3 separate regions of the Homo sapiens genome follow, and all the other regions are linked to region 3. Evidence: fine-mapped expression QTL. A gene starts in region 3. Each other region holds a variant in brackets. All regions are shown on one strand. Distances are between the middles of the regions. Region 1 has its middle 4.9 kb from the start of TIMM29. Region 2 has its middle 9.1 kb from the start of SMARCA4. Region 3 holds the start of CARM1 (coactivator associated arginine methyltransferase 1).

Region 1 (4,194 bases), 62 kb after region 3:
CATAGTGAGACTCCAGCTCAAAAAAATAAATAAATAAGTAACATTTTTGTTTTGATTTTTTTAAGTTTTTTTTTGAGACAGAGTTTCGCTCTTGTTGCCCAGGCTGGAGTGCAGTGGCACTCGCCCCAACCACCGCCTCCTGGGTTCAAGCGTTTCTCCTGTCTCAGCCTCCCAAGTAGCTGGGATTACAGGCGCATGCCACCACGCCCGGCTAATTTTTGTATTTTTTAGTAGAGATGAGATTTCATCATGTTGGTCAGGCTGGCCTCAAACTCCTGACCTCAGGTGATCCGCCTGCCTCAGCCTCCCAAAGTGCTGGGATTGCAGACGTGAGCCACCGTGCCCGGCCCTCGTTCCCTATTAAAAATACAAAACCAGGCAATTGACAGTGTCATGACTATTGGGATGTTACAGGGAAGTTTTTTGTAAAACAACCTGTTTACCAGATGAGCATTGTAAGTTACTGGAGGTGGCTTGGAAGGATAAAGCATTTTCTGGTCTGGAAATCTATATGGAATCATAGATTCTGGTTATGTTGTACTTCAGTAACCCTGAAACAGAATTCTATGAAAAGAAGTAAGTTAGTGTACACAGCTGGTACTTAGCTAGGTTATGGTAAATTGTATTTTTGTTGTTGTTGTTGTTGTTGAGACAGAGTCTCACTCTGACACCCAGGCTGGAGTGCAGTGGCACGATTTCGGCTCACTGCAACCTCTGCCTCCCAGGTTCAAGTGATTCTCTTGCCTCAGCCTCCTGGGTAGCTGGGATTACAGGCATATGCCATGATGCCCAGCTAGTTTTTGTATTTTTAGTAGAGATGGGGTTTCACCATGTTGGCCAAGCTGGTCTCAAACTCCTGACCTCAAGTGATCCTCCCACCTCGGCCTCCCAAAGTGCTGGGATTATAGGTGTGAGCCACTGCGCCCGGCCAATATTTTTTTTTTTTTTTTTTTTTTTTTGAGACAGAGTTTCACTCTATTGCCTAGGCTGGAGTACAGTGGCATGATCTCGGCTCACTGCAGCCTCTGCCACCTGGGTTCAAGCGATTCTCCTGCCTCAGCCTCCCAAGTAGCTGGGATTACAGGCATCTGGCACTGCGTCCGGCTAATTGTTGTATTTTTAGTAGAGACGGGATTTCACTATCTTGGCCAGGCTGGTCTTGAACTCTTTGTGATCCACCTGCCTTGGCCTCCCAAAGTGCTGGGATAATAGGCGTGAGCCACCACACCCGGCCTCAATACTTTTTATTTTTTTTAAGTGTAATTTATGGCCGGCGCAGTGGCTCACACCTGTAACTACAACACTTTGGGAGGCCAAGGTGGGAGGATCGCTTGAGTCCAGGAGTTCGAGACCAGCCTAGGCGACATGGTGAAATCCTGTCTCTACAAAATACACAAAATTACAAAATACACAAAAATTAATCGGGTATGGTACACACCTGTACTACCAACTATTCAGGAGGCTGAGGTGGAAGAATTGCTTGAGCTTGGGAGGTTGAGGCTGCAGTGAGCCAAGACTGCATCACTGCACTCCAGCCTAGGTGACAGAGCAAGCCCCGTCTCAAAAAATTAATAAGGCTGGATGCGGTGGCTCACGCATGTGATCCCAGCACTTTGGGAGGCTGAGGTGGGTGGATCACAAGGTCAAGAGCTCAAGACCATCCTGGCCAACATGGTGAAACCCCGTCTAACAAAAATTAGCTGGGCGTGGTGGCGCACGCCTGTAATCCCAGCTACTTGGGAGACTGAGGCAGGAGAATCACTTGAACCCGGGAGGTGGAGGTTGCAGTGAGCCGAGATCACGCCACTGCGTTCCAGTCTGGGCAACAGAGTGAGACTCCGTCACACAAAAAAAAAAAAAGAGAAAAAATAAATAACATAAAACTGAAGTATTAAGGGAGTGATGCTACCTCAGGGGCCTGTGGCAAGTTAATAAAACCAGGTGGTAAAACAACTATCTTTGTTTGTGATACTTGTTTTTGTGTGTTTGCTACTTTCAAATTTTGGCATTTGACCCTTGCATTCATAATCAGTGGGTTGAACAGGTGTTGGTTTAAGTCAGCATCTCACTTTTACAGAGGAAAAGCTGAGGTTCAGAAAATTTATTTTTCCAAGGCTGTGGCAGGACCAAGATTCGAACTGTAACTCCCAGCTCTGTGACTTAATCCTCAAACTTGTGGACTTTGATCCTAATAATTCTTGTCAGAAATAGTTAAATACTGCTATCAGTTGCCATAAATAAAAATTGGATATAGAAATACATATATAAAGCCGGGCGTGGTGGCTCACGCCTGTAATCCCAGCACTTTGGGAGGC[C/T]GAGGCGGGCAGATCACAAGGTCAGAAGATCGAGACCATCCTGGCTAACACAGTGAAACCCCGTCTCTACTAAAAATATTTAAAAAATTAGCCGGGCGTGGTGGCAGGTGCCTGTAGTCCCAGCTACTCGGGAGGCTGAGGCAGGAGAATGGCGTGAACCCGGGAGGCGGAGCTTGCAGTGAGCGGAGATCGAGCCACTGCACTCCAGCTTGGGCGACAGAGTGAGACTTGTCTCAGAAAAAAAAAAAACAAAAAAAAAAACCAGACATATATAGGCTGGGTGCAGTGGCTCACGCCTATAATCCCAACACTTTGGGAGGCCGAGGTGGGCAGATCATCTGAGGTTGGGAGTTCGAGACCAGCCTGACCAACATGGAGAAACCCCATCTCTACTAAAAGTACGAAATTAGCCAGGCGTGGTGGCACATGCCTGTAATTCCAGCCACTGAGGAGGCTGAGGCAGGAGAATCGCTTGAACCCGGGAGGTTGTGATGAGCTGAGATCGTGCCATTGCACTCCAGCCTGGGCAACAACAGCAAAACTCCCTCTCAAAAAAAAAAAAAAAGAAAAAAGAAAAAAAGAAATACATATATAAAAAAGAAATGCAATAAAACCAAAAGACACAGCCTGGATAACATAGCAACACCTCGTCTCTACTAAAAATAAAAATAGGCCAGGTGTGGTGGCTCACATCTGTAATCCCAGCACTTTGGGAGGCCAAGACGAGTGGGTCACCTGAAGTTAGGAGTTCAAGACCAGCATGGGCAACATGGTAAAACCCCGTGTCTATTAAAAATACAAAAAATTAACCGGGCATGGTGGCAAGCACCTGTAATCCCAGCTACTCGGGAGTGAGCCGAGATCATGCCATTGCACTCCAGCCTGGGCAACAAGAGCAAAACTCCGTCCCAATAAATAAATAAATAATAATTAAAAAAAAAATAGCCAAGTGAGACGGTGTGTGCCTGTGGTCCCAGCTACTTGTGAGGCTGAGGTGAGAGGATCCCTTGAGCCCAGGAGTTTGAGGCTGCAATGAGCTTGGTCATGCCGCTGCACTCCATCCTGGGCCACAGAGTGAGACACTATCTCCCCTCTAACCCCCAAAAATGAAAGGAAACAAAAGACGTCGAGATGATACTAACTAAATGCTATCTCTACACCATTACCTGCCAAAAATCTCTGTCCCCAAATCTGCCCTCTGTTAGACATTAGCCAACTTCAGGGAAGGGTTTTAAGGTGTCATCAAAGACACTTGTTTCTCATTGATCAGAAGTATTGGAAAGGGTCCACACCATCATTGCTTGAGTCAGTTATTAAATGCCACTTTTGACTTCTCGCCAGGGTGTGTTCCAGGAAGATCATCTGAAGCTGCTGGGAGCTTGAAGCTGAGGGCAGTGGTCGGCGCTGTTGGTAGGAATTGTGGAGCTTGGGCAGCCTGAAGGCTTTGTGTCTTGGCTTTGGGCAGAGGGTCAGCTTTTCCCAGAGGTCTCACTGTACTTCAGCCCATGCTCTGGTGTAAGGCAGAGGACAGGAGGCATAAGTGGGCTTTAAAGCCAGGATTTGGAACTCAGCTTTTACACTTCCTTGCTTTGTGAGTGAAGTCACTTCTCCATGCTTTGGGCTCCTTATCTCTAAGTGTGGGCTTGTCAGAAAAATTTAAAAGCCCACTAAAGCACTTGGTACAGAGTAGGCATTCACAGTCTGTGGTGCGGCTGTGCAGGGAAGATTATGGCTCCGAATCCATGCTGTGACCTTCCTAAGTGGTTGTGGAGGGGCTGATGCACCCTGCCTAGTGGTGCAGGGCCACCATGTAGGGAGGGCCCAATGTCTGATAGGATAGAGCCAAGGCACGCTTCTTTCTCAGATCCAAGTGACAGCC
Region 2 (4,202 bases), 80 kb after region 3:
AGAGGCGGGCAGATCACGAGGTCAGGAGATCGAGACCATCCTCGCTAATATGGTGAAACCCCGTCTCTACTAAAAAAAAAAAATACAAAAAGATTACCCGGGTGTGTGGTGGGCGCCTCTAGTCCCAGGTACTCAGGAGGCTGAGGCAGGAGAATGGCGTGAACCCGGGAGGCAGAGCTTGCAGTGAGCCAAGATCGCGCCACTGCACTCCATCCTGGGCGACAGAGTGAGACTCCATCTCAGGAAAAAAAAAAAAAAAAAGGCTGGGTACGGTGGCTCATGTCTGTAATCCTAGCACTTTGGGAGGCCAAGGCAGGAGGACCACTTGAGCCCAGGTGTTTGAGACCAGCCTGGGCAACATAGCAAGATGTATCTCTAAAAAAAAAAGTTCAAAAATTAGCTGGGTGTGCTGGCACCAACCTGTAGTGGGAGGCTGAAGTAGGAGGATCACCTGACCCCTGGGAGGTTGAGGCTTCAGTGAGCCATGATCACACCATGACATTCCAGCTTGGGCAACAGAGTGAGAACCTGTGCCAAAAAAAAAAAAAAAAAAAAAGAGAAAAAAATTGTGGTAAAATACACATTACATAAAATTTCCCTTTTCTTTGAGACAGGGTCACACTCCATTGTCCAGGCTGGAGTGCAGTGGCACAACCTTGGCTTGCTGCAACCTCTGCCACCCATGTTCAAGTGATTCTGGTGCCTCAGCTTCCCGAGTAGCTGGGACTACAGGCATGTACCACCACACCTGGCTAATTTTTGATTTTTTTTTTTTTTGGTAGTGATGGAGTATTTTTGGTAGAGACAGGTTCTTTTGGGTATTTTTGGTAGAGATGGGGTTTTACTATGTTGGCCAGCCTAGCCTCAAGTGATCTGCTCACCTCGGCCTACCAAAGTGCTGGGATTACAGGGGTGAGCCATCGTGGCCAGACCAATTTTTTATTTTTAGTTGAAAAAAGGTCTTCCTCTGTTGCCCAGGCTGGTCTTGAACTCCTGGGCTCAAGTGATCCCCCCACCCGGGCCTCCCAAAGTGCTGAGATTACAGATATGAGCCACCATGCCTAGCCTTATTTTATTTTTAACAGTAGCTCTCCTAATGGTGTGAGGTGGCTGCCACTTCTGAATTTTTTTTTTTTTTTTTGAGACAGAGTCTCGCTCTGTTGCCCAGGCTGGAGTGCAGTGGCACGATCTCAGCTCACTGCAGTTTCTGCCTCCTGGGTTCAAGCAATTCTCATGCCTCAGCCTCCCAAGTAGCTATAACCACATCTGGCTAATTTTTGAATTTCTAGTAGAGATGGGTTTTCACCATTTTGGCCAGGCTGGTCTCAAACTCCTTGCCTCAAGTCATCTGCCCCCGTAGGCTTCCTAAAGTTGTCACTTATGATTTTTTTTTTGAGACGGAGTCTCGCTCTGTCGCCAGGCTGGAGTGCAGTGGCGCGATCTTGGCTCACTGCAAGCTCAGCCTCCGCCTCTGCCTCAGCCTCCCAAATAGCTGGAACTACAGGCCCAAGCCACCACACCCAGCTAATTTTTGTATTTTTAGTAGAGATGGAGTTTCAGCATGTTGGCCAGAATAGTCTCGATCTCTTGACCTTGTGATCCATCTGCCTCGGCCTCCCAAAGTGCTGGGATTACAAGCATGAGCCACCGTGCCCAGCCTTTTCTTTTTTTTTTTTTGAGACGGAGTCTCTTTCTGTCGCCCAGGCTGGAGTGCAGTGGCACAATCTTGGCTCACTGCAAGCTCCGCCTCCCGGGTTCAGGCCATTCTCCTGCTTCAGCCTCCCCAGTAGCTGAGACTACAGGCGCCCGCCACCATGCCTGGCTAATTTTTTGTATTTTTAGTAGAGACGGGGTTTCACTGTGTTAGCCAGGATGGTCTCGATCTCCTGACCTCGTGATCCGCCCGCCTCTGCCTCCCAAAGTTCTGGCATTACAGGCGTGAACCACTGCGCCCGGCTAGCCTTTTTCTTTTTTAATTGAGATGGAGTTTAGCTCTTGTTGCCTAGGCTGGAGTGCAATGGCGCAATCTAGGCTCACTGCAACCTCTGCCTCCTGGGTTCAAGCAATTCTCCTGCCTCAGCCTCCTGAGTAGCTGGGATTACAGGCATCTGCCACCATGCCCAGCTAATTTATTTATTTTTAGTAAAGACGGGGTTTCTTCATGTTGGTCAGGCTGGTCTCAAGCTCCCGACCTCACGTGAGCCACCCGCCTTGGCTTCCCAAAGTGCTGGGATTACACACTTGAGCCACCGCGCGCCTGGCCGATTTTTTTTTTTTTTTTTTTGAGATGGAGTCCCATTTTGTCGCCCAGGCTGGAGTGCAATGGCACGACCTCGGCTCACTGCAACCTCTACTTCCCAGGTTCAAGCGATCCTCTTTCCTCAGCCTCCAGAATAGCTAGACTACAGGTGTGTGCCACCACATCTGGCTAATTTTTGTATTTTTTTTTTAGTAGAGGCGGGGTTTCACCATATTGGCCAGGCTGGTCTCACACTCCTGATCTTGTGATCTGTGTGCCTTGGCCTCCCAAAGTGCTGGGACTAGAGGC[G/A]TGAGCCACTGCACCCGGCCTACACTTACGATTTTTAAGAGGCTGTTGCTGTCTTCTGTTTTCAGAGAAGTGCATTTCAAGTTTACAAAATTGCCTAGCATGGTGGCTCATACCTTTAATCCCAGCACTTTGGGAGGCTGAGGTGAGAGGATTGCTTGAGCTCAGGAGATCAAGACCAGCCTGGGCAACATGGTGAAACTTCATCTCTACAAAAAATAAAAAAAATTAACCAGGTGTGGAGGTGCGCACCAGTAGCCCCAGCTACTCAGGAGGCTGAGGCGAGAGGATGGCTTGAGCTCTGGAGGTTGATGCTACAGTGAACCATGATTGTGCTACTGCACTCCAGCCTGGGTGTGACCAAGTGAGACCTTGCCTCAAAAAGTAACTAACTACCTACCTAATTAAATGTTTACAAAGTCACTAGAAGAATTTGTGTGCAGCCCCAGGGAAAAGTAATAGCTGGATAAGCCCAGAACAGCAAAATGCTTTTTCTGAGAGAAGCAGACCTGCTGAGGCCCAGACTCACTCTTCTCAGACTGAGAGCACATCTGCAGGTGATGTTTGGGAAACCCCGGCTTGGCTTGCCTTGGGACACTTCCAGTAGCTCCAGTTCAGGGTTGGAAAACCTGTTCTGCCACTGTCTTGTGGATGCCACTCCCAGGTTTATATATTTATTTATTTTTTGATGGACTTTCACTCAGTCACCCAGGCAGGAGCGGAGTGGCATAATCTCAGTCACTGCAACCTCCGCCTCCCAGGCTGGAGAGATTCTCCTGTCTCAGCCTCCCGAGTAAAACTGGGACCACAGGTGCCCGCCGCCAAGACTTGCTAATTTCTGTGTTTTTAGTAGAGACAGGGTTTTCCCATGTTGGCCAGGCTGGTTTCAAACTCCTGGCCTCAAGTGATCTGCCCGCCTCAGCCTCCCAAAGTGCTAGGATTACAGGAATGAGCCACCACGCCCAGCGCAATCTTAGGTGGATTTTCTCCATTTTACTTGTACTCGTGTGTGTGTGTGTGTGTGTGTGTGCGCGCGCGCGCGCGTGTGTAGTAAATTGTATACAATTTGCTTCCTATGTAGGTTTGCATATTCACGCCCACATTCAAAATACTGATCATGGCTGAGGCGAGTGGGTCACTTGAGGTCAGGAGTTTGAGATCCACCAGGCCAACATGGTAAAACTCAATCCCTACTAGAAATACAAAAATTAGCCGGGCGTGGTGGTGGGCTCCTGCAATCTCGGCTATTTGGGAGGCTGAGGCAGGAGAATTGCTTGAACCCAGGAGGTGGAGGTTGCAGTGAGCCAAGATTGCACCACTATACTCCAGCCTGGGAGACACAGCGAGACTCCATCTCAAAACAAATCAAATCAAAACAAAACAAAACAAAAAAATTTAATCAGATAGTATGTAACATTTTTGAGATTGGCTTCCCCTCCCCGGTTCCCGCCCAAAGCATAATTCCCTAGAGATTCATTCATCTCGCCTGGGTGCCGTGGTTCACGCCTGTAATCCCAGCACTTTGGGAGGCCGAGGCGGGCAGATCACGAGGTCAGGAGATTGAGACCATCCTGGCTAACACGGTGAAACCCCGTCTCTACTAAAAATACAAAAAATTAGCCAGGCGTGGTGGCAGGTGCCTGTAGTCCCAGCTACT
Region 3 (4,202 bases):
AATTCACCAAATTTGAAGCATCTCTCAAGGGCAGTCAGGGTGGTGTATGCGGAGCCTCCTGGGGGTGTGGGGAGTGCAGCAGTGCCATGCCAGGGTCTCTGCAACGGTACTTGCATTAGAGGGTTTAGGAGGTGGAATGACAGGGGCTACGGGTGAGGGACATGAAGGAGAATGAGGGCCCCTCGCAGTGGCTCACACCTATAATCCCAGCACTTTGGGAGGCCGAGGCAGGGGGTTGCTTGAGCCCAGGAGGTTGAGGCTGCAGTAAGCTATGATGGCACCACTGCACTCTAGCCTGGGCAACACAGTGAGACCCTGTCTCAAAAAACAAAAGGGGCCGGGCGCGGTGGCTCATGCCTGTAGGCCCAGCACTTTGGGATGCCGAGGCGGGCGGATCACCTGAAGTCAGGAGTTCAAGACCAGCCTGACCAACATGGTGAAACCTCGTCTCTACTAAAAATAAAAAATTAGCTGGGCGTGGTAGAGCATGCCTGTAGTCCCAGCTACTCGGGAGGCTGAGGCAGGAGAATCACTTGAACCCGGGAGGCGGAGGTTGCGGTGAGCTGAGATCGAGCCATTGCACTCCAGCCTGGGAGACAGAGCGAGACTCCGTCTCAAAGAAAAAAAAAAAAAAAAAAAAGGAATGAGGCGTAAATGAGGTCTAGGGAAGAGTTAAAGCTGGAGTGCTAGGAAGTGGCCCAAGCTCACTGGGTCGCCCAAAAGAGATGGGGCCACCCAAAATGAAGGGGGATGCAGAGAGAAGACGGGTTTGTGTGGCGGGAGAGGGGCCCTGCGCCGGGCCAGGCTGGACTCAGCATCGTTGGAGGAGGGGCTGAGAGAGGAGGGGGTCAAAGGATATCTTGTGCGAAAGGAGACAGTCAAACATTAAGGATTAAGAAGGCAATGTGGGCAGAGATGATGGGGAAGGGAGGAGGAGCGGTCGAATGTCGGGGAGGGGTCCTTTCAACCGGGCTCAGGTTGCTCCTGGAGGCCAGGGCTCATCGGAAATCGTCGGTGCGGGGGCGGTGGGGGGAAGGGTTGGGGGCGAGGCCCGGGCGCTGGCCACGCCCTTTCCCCCGCCCATTCCCCAGAGCGGGGCGGCTGACAAAGCGAGTCCGGGTGGGAGGGCGCGGGCAGGCACGGGGGCGGGGCCTCGTCGCGGCTGGGCCACGCCTCCCTGAGGGCTGCCTCACAAAGCCGGGCGGGCCCGGGGGGGTGGGGCCCAGTCTCAGGGGCGTGTCCAGGTCGGGGCAGGGAAGCCGCATCACGACGCGCGGCTGCTTGTGTGGGGCGGGGTACAGGGCGTGTCCACGCGGCCGAGCACCGCCCCCGCCGTCCCCGCACCGCCTCACTCGAAAGCAGCCGTTAATGAGGCGCCGGCCTGGGGGCGGGGCCCAGGCCTCCGAGGGGCGTGCCCGCGCGCCCGAGCACCGCCCCCGACGTACCCTCCCGCCCCGCAGTTCCCGGGCGGTGGAGCCACCTCACAAAGCGGCGACCGTTCTCGCGGGGCGGGGCGTAGCCGGTCCCGCCCCACGGGGTGCCCTCTCGTTCGCTCGCTAGCTCCCCGCGCCCAGGACGGCCGGCAGAGGGCGCTGCGCCACGGGGCCGGGCCGCGGCGACGGTGGCGGCGGCGGCGGCGAGGCGGCGCGTGGCCGGCAGGCGGCGCTGCCCGGCTCGGCCTCGGCCTGCACGGCGGCTGCGGCGGCGGTAGCGGCAGCGGCGGCGGCGGCGGCGGCGGCGGCGGCGGCGGCGGCGGCGGCGGCGGCAGCGGCGGCGGCCTGGGCCCGGGCGCAGCGGCGGCGGCGGCGGGGCCTGGAGCCGGATCTAAGATGGCAGCGGCGGCGGCGGCGGTGGGGCCGGGCGCGGGCGGCGCGGGGTCGGCGGTCCCGGGCGGCGCGGGGCCCTGCGCTACCGTGTCGGTGTTCCCCGGCGCCCGCCTCCTCACCATCGGCGACGCGAACGGCGAGATCCAGCGGCACGCGGAGCAGCAGGCGCTGCGCCTCGAGGTGCGCGCCGGCCCGGACTCGGCGGGCATCGCCCTCTACAGCCGTGAGTACGGGGCCCCGGGGCAGGCGCAGGGCCGGGGCTGCTCACGAGGCCGGCCCGGGGCGGGGGCCGGCGGGGAGGGGCCCTGAGCGCGGGGGCCTGGCGTGGGGTCCCCGGGACTGAGCCGGTGGCCTGCAGGGAGCGACCGTGGAGGGCCGGTGCCAGGGGACAGACAGAGAAAAGAGGGCGTGCGTGGTGGCCGGAGGGGCAAGGTGCCCAGAGTGAGCAAGGGAGCGCGAAATGGGGAGTGAAGGGCCTGAGATTTGGGAGGGGTGGGTGAGCAGGAAGTGGGGGGCTCTGAGTGGAAGGGGAATTTGGAGGACGCCAGGCGTGGTGGGCTTAAGCGTGGGGGAGGGAGGTCCGGGGTGCGGGAGAGGTGGGCGTCTCGGGGGCGGGCGTGGCCGCCTCTGCAGGGAGGAGGGTGGGGCGTGGGCGGCCCGGGATCCCTCTGGGGACCCCCTGGATAGCTCAGGACGGTTGGAAAGTGTTTGCTGGTCTGGGGCGCCCGCGAGTACCGAGTTCCACCGCTGTGCGAGGTGTGGCGTTCAGGACCCCCGAATGGGAAACTTCAGGATCTGGGGAGAGGGCCCATGCGGGGACGGTGGGAGCCGCAGGGTGAGCTCCTCGTGGAAACGTGGACGGGACGGGCCCCTTCCTGATGCCGGGCTTCGAAGTAAGAGCTAACAGCCTCCTCCCATCTTCTTTTGGGGGATGTGAGAAGCTGGTTACATTTTCCGAAGCTGCTTTCAAAACTGACATTTCACTGGGGGGAAAAGAAAATCACAAATGCGTTTGCCAGCACCCCCCACCCCCGCTCCCAGTCTTTGTAGTTCATTCTTCTTCTTGTTACTCCTTCTTATCTCTTCTCTTTGATTCCTTGTTCACATTTTGCTACTCTGTGTCATTTGGCTTTGTCTTTCAGGGCTTCTTGCACTGATGCCCTGGGGAACCCCTCAGGAGGCCTCTAGCTAGCTTGGGTCCTGTGTGAATTTTTTGCCACTTTGGAAACGGCCCGATTAAAGGAAAGCCCGAGGAGCAGTCCGTTCACACTGGGTTTTCCCTGCACCTCGACTTTGAAAACGTGGACTAAAGGAGTTGTGTCTGCTGTCCGAGGGTGCCGTCTCTTTTTGCTGGTGCAGAGCCTGGGTCTTCTTGGACCAGATGAGAGGGGAAGGAGGGTATTTCAGCGGGGGTTTCAGAGTTCAAGGCAGACACTCAGCTCAACAGAACCCCAGATCATAAGCAAAACCTATTCACTGGGCAAGCATTGGTAGCCAACTTTGTCCTGAACAGAACAAAGCGGGGCAGCGTTTCCAAAACTAGGGTCCCAGGGCTTATCCTCAAAGGAGTTCCAGGAGAGTTGGCTATCATTTTTAAGTAAACCTTTAAAAAATTTTTTTAGGACCAGGCGGGGTAGCTCAGCACTTTGGGAGGCTAAGCACTTTGGGAGGATCACTTGAGGTCAGGAGTTCGAGACCAGCCTGGCCAACATGGTGAAACCCCGTCTCTACTAAAAATACAAAACAGCGGGGTGTGGTGACATGTGCCTGTCCCAGCTACTCGGGAGGCAGAGGCAGGAGAATCACTTGAACCTGGGAGGCAGAGGTTGCAATGAGCTGAGATCGTGCCATTGCACTCCAGCCGGGGAGACAGAGTGAGACTCCATCTCAAAAAAAAAATTTTTTTTAGAACAATTTTAGTTTAGTTTTTTTTTTTTTTTTTTTTTTTTTTTTTTTTTGAGACAGAGTCTTGCTCGGTCCCCCAGGCTGAAGTGCAGTGGCTCAATCTCGGCTCACTGCAAGCTCTGCCACCTGGGTTCACGCCATTCTCCTGCCTCAGCCTCCCGAGTAGCTGGGACTACAGGCGCCTGCCGCCATGCCCGGCTAATTTTTTGTGTTTTTAGTAGAGACGGGGTTTCACCATGTTAGCCAGGATGGTCTTGATCTCCTGACCTCGTGATCCACCCGCCTTGGCCTCCCAAAGTGCTGGGATTACAGGCATGAGCCACCCCGCCCGGCCAGAACAATTTTAGTCTTATAGATGTATTGGCAACATAGTGAGATGTTCCTACCATCTTATTCCTGGAGTAACATTTTGTGTTTGTATTTGTGTTTTTGTTTTTGTTTTGTTGATACTCTTGAAAGTATTACTTGTTA

The links. PIP is the estimated chance that this variant, and not a neighbour inherited with it, causes the effect.
Region 1: its variant is fine-mapped to the expression of CARM1 in whole blood (INTERVAL, PIP 0.94).
Region 2: its variant is fine-mapped to the expression of CARM1 in whole blood (INTERVAL, PIP above 0.99).

The regions. Positions count from the first base shown.
Region 1 is chr19:10,931,580-10,935,773 of GRCh38, forward strand. No RefSeq gene overlaps it. Among named protein-coding and RNA genes, the nearest start is that of TIMM29, 4.9 kb to the left of the region's middle. The variant C/T (reference allele first, on the strand shown) is at 2,316.
Region 2 is chr19:10,949,822-10,954,023 of GRCh38, forward strand. No RefSeq gene overlaps it. Among named protein-coding and RNA genes, the nearest start is that of SMARCA4, 9.1 kb to the right of the region's middle. The variant G/A (reference allele first, on the strand shown) is at 2,549.
Region 3 is chr19:10,869,874-10,874,075 of GRCh38, forward strand. It overlaps CARM1 (coactivator associated arginine methyltransferase 1), which reads left to right and starts at 1,680. Exons shown (of 16, transcript NM_199141.2): 1 at 1,680-2,049. The coding sequence starts at 1,830. RefSeq lists silencers at 940-1,729, 1,860-1,909, 2,000-2,209 and enhancers at 2,950-3,129, 3,770-3,889.